2 linked regions of the Homo sapiens genome follow. The protein of the gene in region 1 purifies or fractionates together with the protein of each later gene. This does not show direct contact. Each region holds a gene or a part of one and is shown on either strand. Other genes may lie near its edges. The genes, in order: MOGAT1 and POTEE.

The links.
Region 2: the proteins of MOGAT1 (region 1) and POTEE purify together in Homo sapiens (affinity purification with mass spectrometry; one large-scale study listed by BioGRID and IntAct). This does not show direct contact.

The regions. Positions count from the first base shown.
Region 1 is NC_000002.12:222,705,941-222,709,749, forward strand, and holds part of MOGAT1 (2-acylglycerol O-acyltransferase 1), read left to right. Parts: intron 1-3,795; coding exon 3,796-3,809. UniProt on the Homo sapiens protein: Involved in glycerolipid synthesis and lipid metabolism. Catalyzes the formation of diacylglycerol, the precursor of triacylglycerol, by transferring the acyl chain of a fatty acyl-CoA to a monoacylglycerol, mainly at the sn-1 or sn-3 positions.
Region 2 is NC_000002.12:131,208,193-131,212,579, forward strand, and holds the start of POTEE (POTE ankyrin domain family member E), read left to right. Parts: upstream 1-1,343; 5' UTR 1,344-1,627; intron 1,628-2,835; 5' UTR 2,836-2,991; intron 2,992-4,387.

The sequences.
Region 1 (3,809 bases):
TCTGTTGCTTCTGGCTTCATCCCTAAAATGCAATTGAGAAAGATTTCTTACTCTCTAATCCGGTTTGGGGTTAGTTTAAGAAGCAGGGGCAGGAATGCTGGGTTTAAGTCGTATTAATTTCCTGGGCTTTTTTGAGTATAGTTTAGGAACTTTCAGCTCCTCACTTTTCCTACAACTAAGGCAAAGAAAAGAAGATTATGTCTATCTCACAGTTTAAAGGGATAAGTCTTATGATTATAAATTCACTCTAGGCTGGGCGTGGTGGCTCACGCCTATAATCCCAGCACTTTGGGAGGCCGAGGCAGGTGGATAACCCAAGGTCAGGAGTTTGAGACCAGCCTGACCAACATGACGAAACTCTGTCTCTACTAAAAACACAAAAATTACCCTGGCATGGTGGTGCGTGCCTGTAATTCCAACTACTTGGGAGGCTGAGGCAGGAGAATTGCTTGAACCTGGGGGGCAGAGGTTGCAGTGAGCTCAGATCATGCCACTTCACTCCAGCCTGGGAGAAAGAGAAAAACTCTGTATAAAAAAAAAAAAAAAATTCATTCCATATGTGAGCATGCTTAAGCTCTCTGGAAGAACCATCTGAAATGTAGTAAAACAATTAATGAGAAAAGAACAGGATTGAAATTAGCTGTAGGATAGCTCAGAGGAAAGAAGACTCACTAATTCAGAATGTACGAGTACTAGCTAAAGTAAGCAGAGAAGAACACACTTCATCTTCTTAGACCACTGAGTCTTTTTACTGGTCCCTTACCCCTACCCTGAATAGTTACATTAACCTCTCTCACTGGAATAATTTCACTAAGAAAACAGAAGCTATTTTAACAAAGCCACAAATTTGCTTAGATTTACATGTAGATTTCTCCATATCTTCCTCAAACAACAAAAAAGCTCAGTGCTGGAAGAATGCTTCAAGATCTTGGAATTCTTTTATCCTATGCATGTGAAAATTAAGGCCAGAGAGGCTGGCTGTGGTGGCTCACGCCGACCTAGCACTTTGAGAGGCTGAGGCTGGTAGATCACTTGGAGCCAGAAGTTTGAAGCCAGCAAGGCCAACATAGTGAACCCTGTCTCTACTAAAAATACAAAAAAGTTGGCTGGGCGTGGTGGCACATGCCTGTAATCTCAGCTACTGGGGAGGCTGAGGCACAAGAATTGCTTGAATCCAGGAGGCGGAGGCTGCAGTGAGACGAGATCACACCATTACAGTCTAGCATGGTTGACAGAGCAAGACTCCATTTCAGAAAGAAAGAGAGACAGAAAGAAAAACAAGGAAGGAAGGAAGGAAGGGAGGGGAAAGAAAGAGAAAGAAAGAGAGAGAGAAAGAAGGAGGGAAGGAAGGAAGGAAGGAAAGGAGGGAGGAAGGAAGGAAGGAGAAAGAAAGAAAAAGAAAGAAAGAAAAAGAAAGAAAGAGAAAGAAAGAGAAAGAAAGAAAAGAAAAGAGAAAGAGGGAGGGAAGGGAGGGAAGGGAGGGAAGGGAGGCAAGGAAGGGGAAAGGGAAAGGGAAAGGAAATTAAGGCCAGAGAGAAAGTCACCTGCTCAGGGCACTTACTGGTGAGCTGGGACTAGACCCAGCCCAGCCTTGTGCTTTTTGTGCAACTCCCGCTCCCAGTTCCACCTCATCACTACATTGGCCTCTGCTAGTCCATATTTCCAGCCACAATTGACAGTGAGATGGTTGTTTCCAGTTCTTTGTGTTGAGTTAAACAGGACTTATGTCTACTATGTATAAATGTGACATCCAAGCTATCAAAGAAAACCACATGAGCTTTTCAAGGCTATGTGTGGTTAAATTCTTAGCAATTTGAGAATATTAATGTTGCAGTAAGGATGTGTGTATGTGTGTGTGTCCTCTGTGCCCCCTCAGCTCCCATACTGATGTCATTTATCACTTCCTTCTCTGTGACTTAACATTTGTTCATATTTTGCTTAGCTAACCACCTACTCTTACTGACATGAATCAGAACCTCGTATGTGACATGGGATGACTCAGGATAGGACAAAGGTCGCTCTACTGTGGGTCCCATTCATTACCTAGAGCCCACCTGACCTCATGCCCAAGCTAATGAGGTCAGAGGCAGCAGTTTGCTGCCTCATTGAACTTCCTGTACATTTTCTTTTTTTTGTTGTTGTTTGTTTGCTTGTTTGTTTTGAGACGGAGTCTTGCTCTGTCCCCCAGGCTAAAGTGCAGTGGCGCAATCCGGTCTTACTGCAACCTCTGCCTCCTGGGTTCTAGAGGTTGTCCTGCCTCAGCCTCCCGGGTAGCTGGGATTACAGGTGCCCGCCACCACGTCCGGCTAATTTTTGTATTTTTAGTAGAGACGGTGTTTCGCCATGCTGGTCAGGCTAGTATCGAACTCCTGACCTCAGGTGATCCACCCGCCTCAGCCTCCCAAAGTGTTGGGATTACAGGCGTGAGACACTGCGCCCGGCCATCCTGTACATTTTCAACCCTTGGCATCAGTAGCAGCATCCGACCAGCAGGTGGCGCAGCGAGTGCAAGAGCCAAAGCCATGGGAATTTTTGTATTTTCTAAAAATCAGAGACAAGTGAGATGTTATATAAACACCTTTTAAAATATGTATAGAGGTTGCCAGATTTGTTTTTAATTAGTGTATTTGGAAAAACACAAATGCATTCTCATTTGTAGAAAATTTATATAACACAGTTAGAGTGAAATTTCCCCATCCCTACGTCCTTACCAAAAAGGAACTTTTATGTTTCTCTCTCTTTCCGGACTTTTTTCCATGCACTAAAAACGTATAATACTTCTAGGAATATAAACATTTTTTCCAAAAATGGATCATACTGTATTATTTTACAAATTATTTTTCCACTTAATACATTTTAGACATCTGTGTGTATTTGTGTATGTGTACACATATTTATATTATTTCATTGTTTAAAAATTTCTGCCTAGGATTCTATTGAATGACTATTACATGGTTTATTTAACAGTTTTTCTATTGAGACGTTAGCTGTTTTTCAGTTACCCGCTATTACAAACAATGGAATCCACGTCATTTATGTGTATTTCTCTAATACAGATACTTAGCTGTGAAGATATGTATTTTTTAATTGTTTAGAAAGACACTCAAAAGAGGCAGACTGGGCCTGGCCAGTCGCTCACCCTTGTAATTCCAGCTTGAGGTCAGGAGTTCAAGACCAGCCTGGCCAACATGGCAAAACCCCGTCTCTACTGAAAATACAAAAAAAAAATTAGCCGGGCATGGTGGTGGGAGCCTGTAATCCCAGCTACTCAGTGGGAGGTTAAGGCAAGAGAATCGCTTGAACTCGGGAGGCGGAGTTCGCAGTGAGCTGAGACTGTGCCACTGCACTCCAGCCTGGGTGACAGAGTAAGACTCTGTCTCAAAAAGAAGAGTCAGACTAGAGGACTGCCACGTGACGTGAGGATTCACAGTCAGTAATAATCAGGGCACTATGGTCTGGCTGTCAACTGTTCCAGAGGGAGGAAGCTGGTGACGTGGACACACAGCTATGTCCACTCACCTCCCAGCTGCAGTCAGCACAGTAGCTCATTTGACTCAAAGTCAAAACCACCAGGGTCCCGACAATCCAGTGTCTGCTGAGGAGGAAAGTTCTTTATTTGTTATCAGATGGAGTGGTGTGACCACTGCAGGCAGCCAGTGAAAGGAAACAAGGATTGGAGTGAGCAGGCTGGAGGGATTCTGATTGGCAGTTGTGTTCACAGCTGTGCATTAGGGGCGGCGGTCTGTGGTGGAGTGGTTTTAGTTCCTCACGTATGATGTATTCCCTGATTTGCAGTTGGCCGCCCGATC
Region 2 (4,387 bases), about 91 Mb from region 1:
AAACCCTTCTCCTCACTCCTGCTGCTCACCACTTTTTCGCCCTTCATCTACCCGAAAACTGTTTTCCTCATCGTCTTTTCCCCCGCTCCTCCTTGCCACCCTCTTTCCCTTCTCTACCCAAAAACATTTCCCCATAGTCTTTTCGCAAAGCCTTCTCCCCACTCCTGCTCACCTCCCCTTTTCCCCCTCCATCCACCCCCCAGAATATTCCCTACTGTCTTTTCACAGTCTTCCCCCCTTCCCACTCGTCCTCTTCTTTGCCCTATCCTGCTTGCCACTCTCTTTTTTGCCTTCCATCTACCCCAAACTATTTTCCCATTTTTTCCCCAACTCTCTTTCCCTGCTCCCTCTCGTCACCCTCTTTCCTCCTCCTCGTTACCCTCTTTCCCCCCACCATCTACCCAAACACTTTTTACCCACTGTCTTTTCTTTCTCCACCGTCTTTCTTTCCTGCCCACTATCTTTTTGCAAAACCTTGTCTTCCTCCCGCTGGCTACCCTTTTCCCTTCCCCCACCTGTTACCCTCTTTTCCCCCTCTATCTACCCAAAACCTTTTCTCCCCACTGTCTTTTCACAAAACCTTCTCTCTCTACTGCTCAACGCTGTTTCTCCCCCCCACCACCCTCTCTTTCCTCCTCCCTTGCCACCCTCTTTTCCTCCTCCATCTACCCATAAACATTTTACCCACCATCTTTCTGCAAAACCTTCCCTCCCTGCCGCTCCCCACCCCGTTTTTCTCCCTCCATCTACCCAAAAACTTTTTTTCCCACTATCTTTTCCCCACCGCCTTTTTGCAACGCGCTCTCCTGCTCACTATCCTCTCTTCCCTTTGGCACTAACCACCCTCTTTACCCCCTCCATCTATCCCAAAACTCTTTTCCTCCTCTTACCGCTTCCGCCGCACTGCCGTCTCGGTCGCGGTTACCACCAGTCGCAGCGAGGCGAGCCACGGTGTAGCGGCTCCAGCCTCCAGCGTACGGCTGGTGATTACCCATTCCTGGTCCTCTAAGCCGGGCACTGAGCAGCTCCACAGGAAAATACGGGAACGTGGAAGAGCCTGACTTCCCTTCAGCAGCAGGCGTATACCGCGGTTATATACAGGAGGATTCCTGACTGCATGTTCTGATTGGATGAGAAAAACCCTCCAGGGTTACTTGGATTGGACTTTATTATCATGTTCTGATTGGATGAGAGCCAGTCTTAAGACAACCAATCACAGCATGAAAATAAAGTCCAATCAGAGTAGGCCTAGAGGTTTTTCTCTCATCCAATCAGAACATGTAGTCTGGGAACCACATGTGCGTAACCTCAGTACGTAAAGCATGCGGAGGTGGCGTCAGGTCATTTCAGGCTCTTAAGTGTGGGCGTTTGGTAACCGGCATGGCTGCTACCTGTTTCTGGCTGGAGCCTCGGACACTGGCTCACTGCAGTTGGTGGTGTCCACAGAGCGGTAGGAGGGCAACTAGTAGCGGGAGCTTCTCCTGCCAGGCAGGAAGACGAGTAGAAGGGAGCAGCACCGACGCATGCTGGAGGCTGGAGCCTGAGCCCCTGGGGCTCGCCTTGCTGTGTTTGGTGGTGACGTGGGACACTGCAGCTCGGCCAGAGTGGTAGAAATGTCCTGGTGTAGGTGAGTTATCCGGGGATGTACTGCCCGCCTGTGGGGGCAGGGGTTGGGTGTCCTATTGGGGCTCACTGCCCGAGGCTGCACTGCCTGTGTCAGGGGGCTGGTTGGGGGCACTCTCCGAGGTTGCATTGCTGGCGGTGGAGGGGGGCGGTTTTGGCTGGCTGTCCGGGGCTACACTGCCCGTGGTGGCGGGGGTGGTGGGGGGGAGGCAGGTTGTGTGCACTAACGTGTACTGCCGGTGGCGGGGGAGGGGTTAGGGGCACTATTTTCTGCTGCACTGCCCGGGGCAGGGAGTGGTTTGGGTGGTTATTTGGAGCTACAATGCTGGCAGCGGGGGGTGGTTTAGGAGTGTTGTCGGGTGCTGCACTGCCCTTACTCAGGGTGCGCTATCAGGAGCTGCGCTACCTGTGGTGGGGTGGGGGCGGCGATTTTGGGGCACTGTCTTGTGCAGCAACACCTGTGGCTGGGTCAGGTTGTGGGCACTATCGGGTGCTACACTGCCTGTGGAAGGGGTGGTTGGGGGGGGGTATTGGGGTTACACTGCCTGCAACTGGCACAGGGTGTGTTGGGTGTGCTGTCCGGGGGCTACACTGCCGGCGGCAGGGGTCAGGTTAGGGTTGCTATGGGGGCTATACTGCCAGTGGTGTTGGTCGGCTGCAGAGGTGGTGGGGACAGCAACAGCCATGGTCTCCTTGCTCCTTCGGGTAACTCTTCTCTTTTCCAGACTCCAGAGTTCCTGCTCGTGCAATCTTGAGCAGGGCAGGGCCCCCACACCCACTGCGGTTCTCCGGCCTGCACCTCCCGCCCACACCCCATGCTCTGTGTTGGGGAGACCACCTGGGACTACCGGGTGGGGATTAGTGGGCATCGCGGGGGACTGTGGGAACAGGGCACTGTGGGTGGAGGTGTCAGGAACGGGAACCAGCAGTTGAGTGGGGAGGGCTGGCTGGGTCTGAGTTTCTCCTACTCCTGCTCCCCAAGGAGTGCAGCCCTGGTGGGCCCAGCAATTTCTGGCCAGTTGCACCTGGATGGGGGTGGTTTCAGCATAGGCACTCACACCCGCCCCAGTTCCTGGCCACCTTTTGCCAGAAAGAGAGGCTGGACTTCGGTGGGTGGGTGTGAGTGCCTTAGCTGAAGCTGGTCCCTGCCACCCAGTGGCCAGCATGACAAGGTGAGGCTCTAACGTTACCACTCCCTGCATCCCATTCTAGGCTTTTCTGGCTTTGCCGGTCTAGCTGCTCCAAGCCAGGCTGGAGGAGGAGGAGAAGGAATCACCTGTGGTACGCTGGAGCCTGCATGTGGCGTGACTCTGCAGCTCGCCTCGTGTGACTGATGGCAGCCACGGAGACTGCAGCTCGACAGGAGTGGTAGGAGGGTGCCCGCGGGGGCAAGGTGGTAGGAACCTTGTAGGGTGGGCTGCTGCATTGACGGCGACAGCAACTGTATTGGCATTGGTGCTAGTGGTGGTAGTGGCAGAAAGTCTGGGGACTGGGAAGGGGGAGTAGGAGCACTGCAGGGCCCAGTCCGACCTGGGGTGGGGAGGAACCTGCTGGTGCTGTACCATGGGCCTCGGTGGCAGTGGTGGAGGTGCACTTAGGGAAAGGAGTCCTCCCCCTTCTCTTGCAATCTCTGGAGGGTGGCCTCCTTCTGAGCCAGGCATGAGTGGCAGCATTGTCTCATTCTTAACAAAATTTAGGGGGTGACTGTGTGTGTGTGTGTGTGTGGCTTTTTTTTTTTTTTTTTTTTTTTTTTTTGAGACAGAGTCTCGCTCTTTTGCCCAGGCTGGAGTGCAGTGGTGCGATCTCGGCTCACTGCAAGCTCTGCTTCCTGGGTTCACCCCATCCTCCTGCCTCAGCCTCCCTAGTAGCTGGGACTACAGGCGCCTGCCACCACGCCCAGCCAATTTTATTTTTGTATTTTTAGTAGAGATGGGGTTTCACAGTGTTGGCCAGGATGGTCTAGATCACCTGACCTCATGATCCGCCCACCTTGGCCTCCCAAAGTGCTAGGATTATAGGCGTGAGCCACCACTCCCGGTCATTTTTTCCTTCTTTTTTGTTGTGATGGTCTTGGACTTTTTCAAATTTTGTGAATTGGGGAGGGGATAAAAGGTGTCATAATAGGCCTTCTAATTCCTGCACCTGTTCTTTTTGCTTTTTCTAGTCTGTGTATTCTTCTCATCTTCTTGTTCCTCTTCATTTTCTTTTGCTGCTGCTTCTATTTCATGTTTCTATTCTTGTTTCTCCTCCTCTTTTTGTTTTCTTTATGCCAAGCAATGGCCTTAACAAACAACAAGCCAAAATTGTCACTGTGTTGTATTTTTAAAATAACTGGTCCTTTACTATGTTTTAGGGATGAGGAAAAAAATCAGTTGTATAATTAGTTACTTGAATAGCTATGCTTTCATGATTGTGTTAAACCACTTATGCCTAGTGTTCCATTATTGGAATGGTAAGCATGAGGGAGTTAATTACATCCTACTGCTCAAGGTCATTAGAAGGTTTGATTTTTCACTCGTGCAAAAATTCAAAAAATTGCAGCCTCTGGCATAAATGGGCTAATGCGTTATAAGTAGTTATTCAGAGAATCAAAAAATGAAGCATCACATAAAAATATTGGTGGCAAACAGCCATTTCATCTCTCTCACATATTTGGAGCTATGCAGGAGTCACGGGGTAAGTTCTAATTTATGAGATTATTAAGTGAACTGTATTGCCTTCATTTTCTCTGCCACCATTTCCTTTGTTTTCTTTCTTTTTTTTT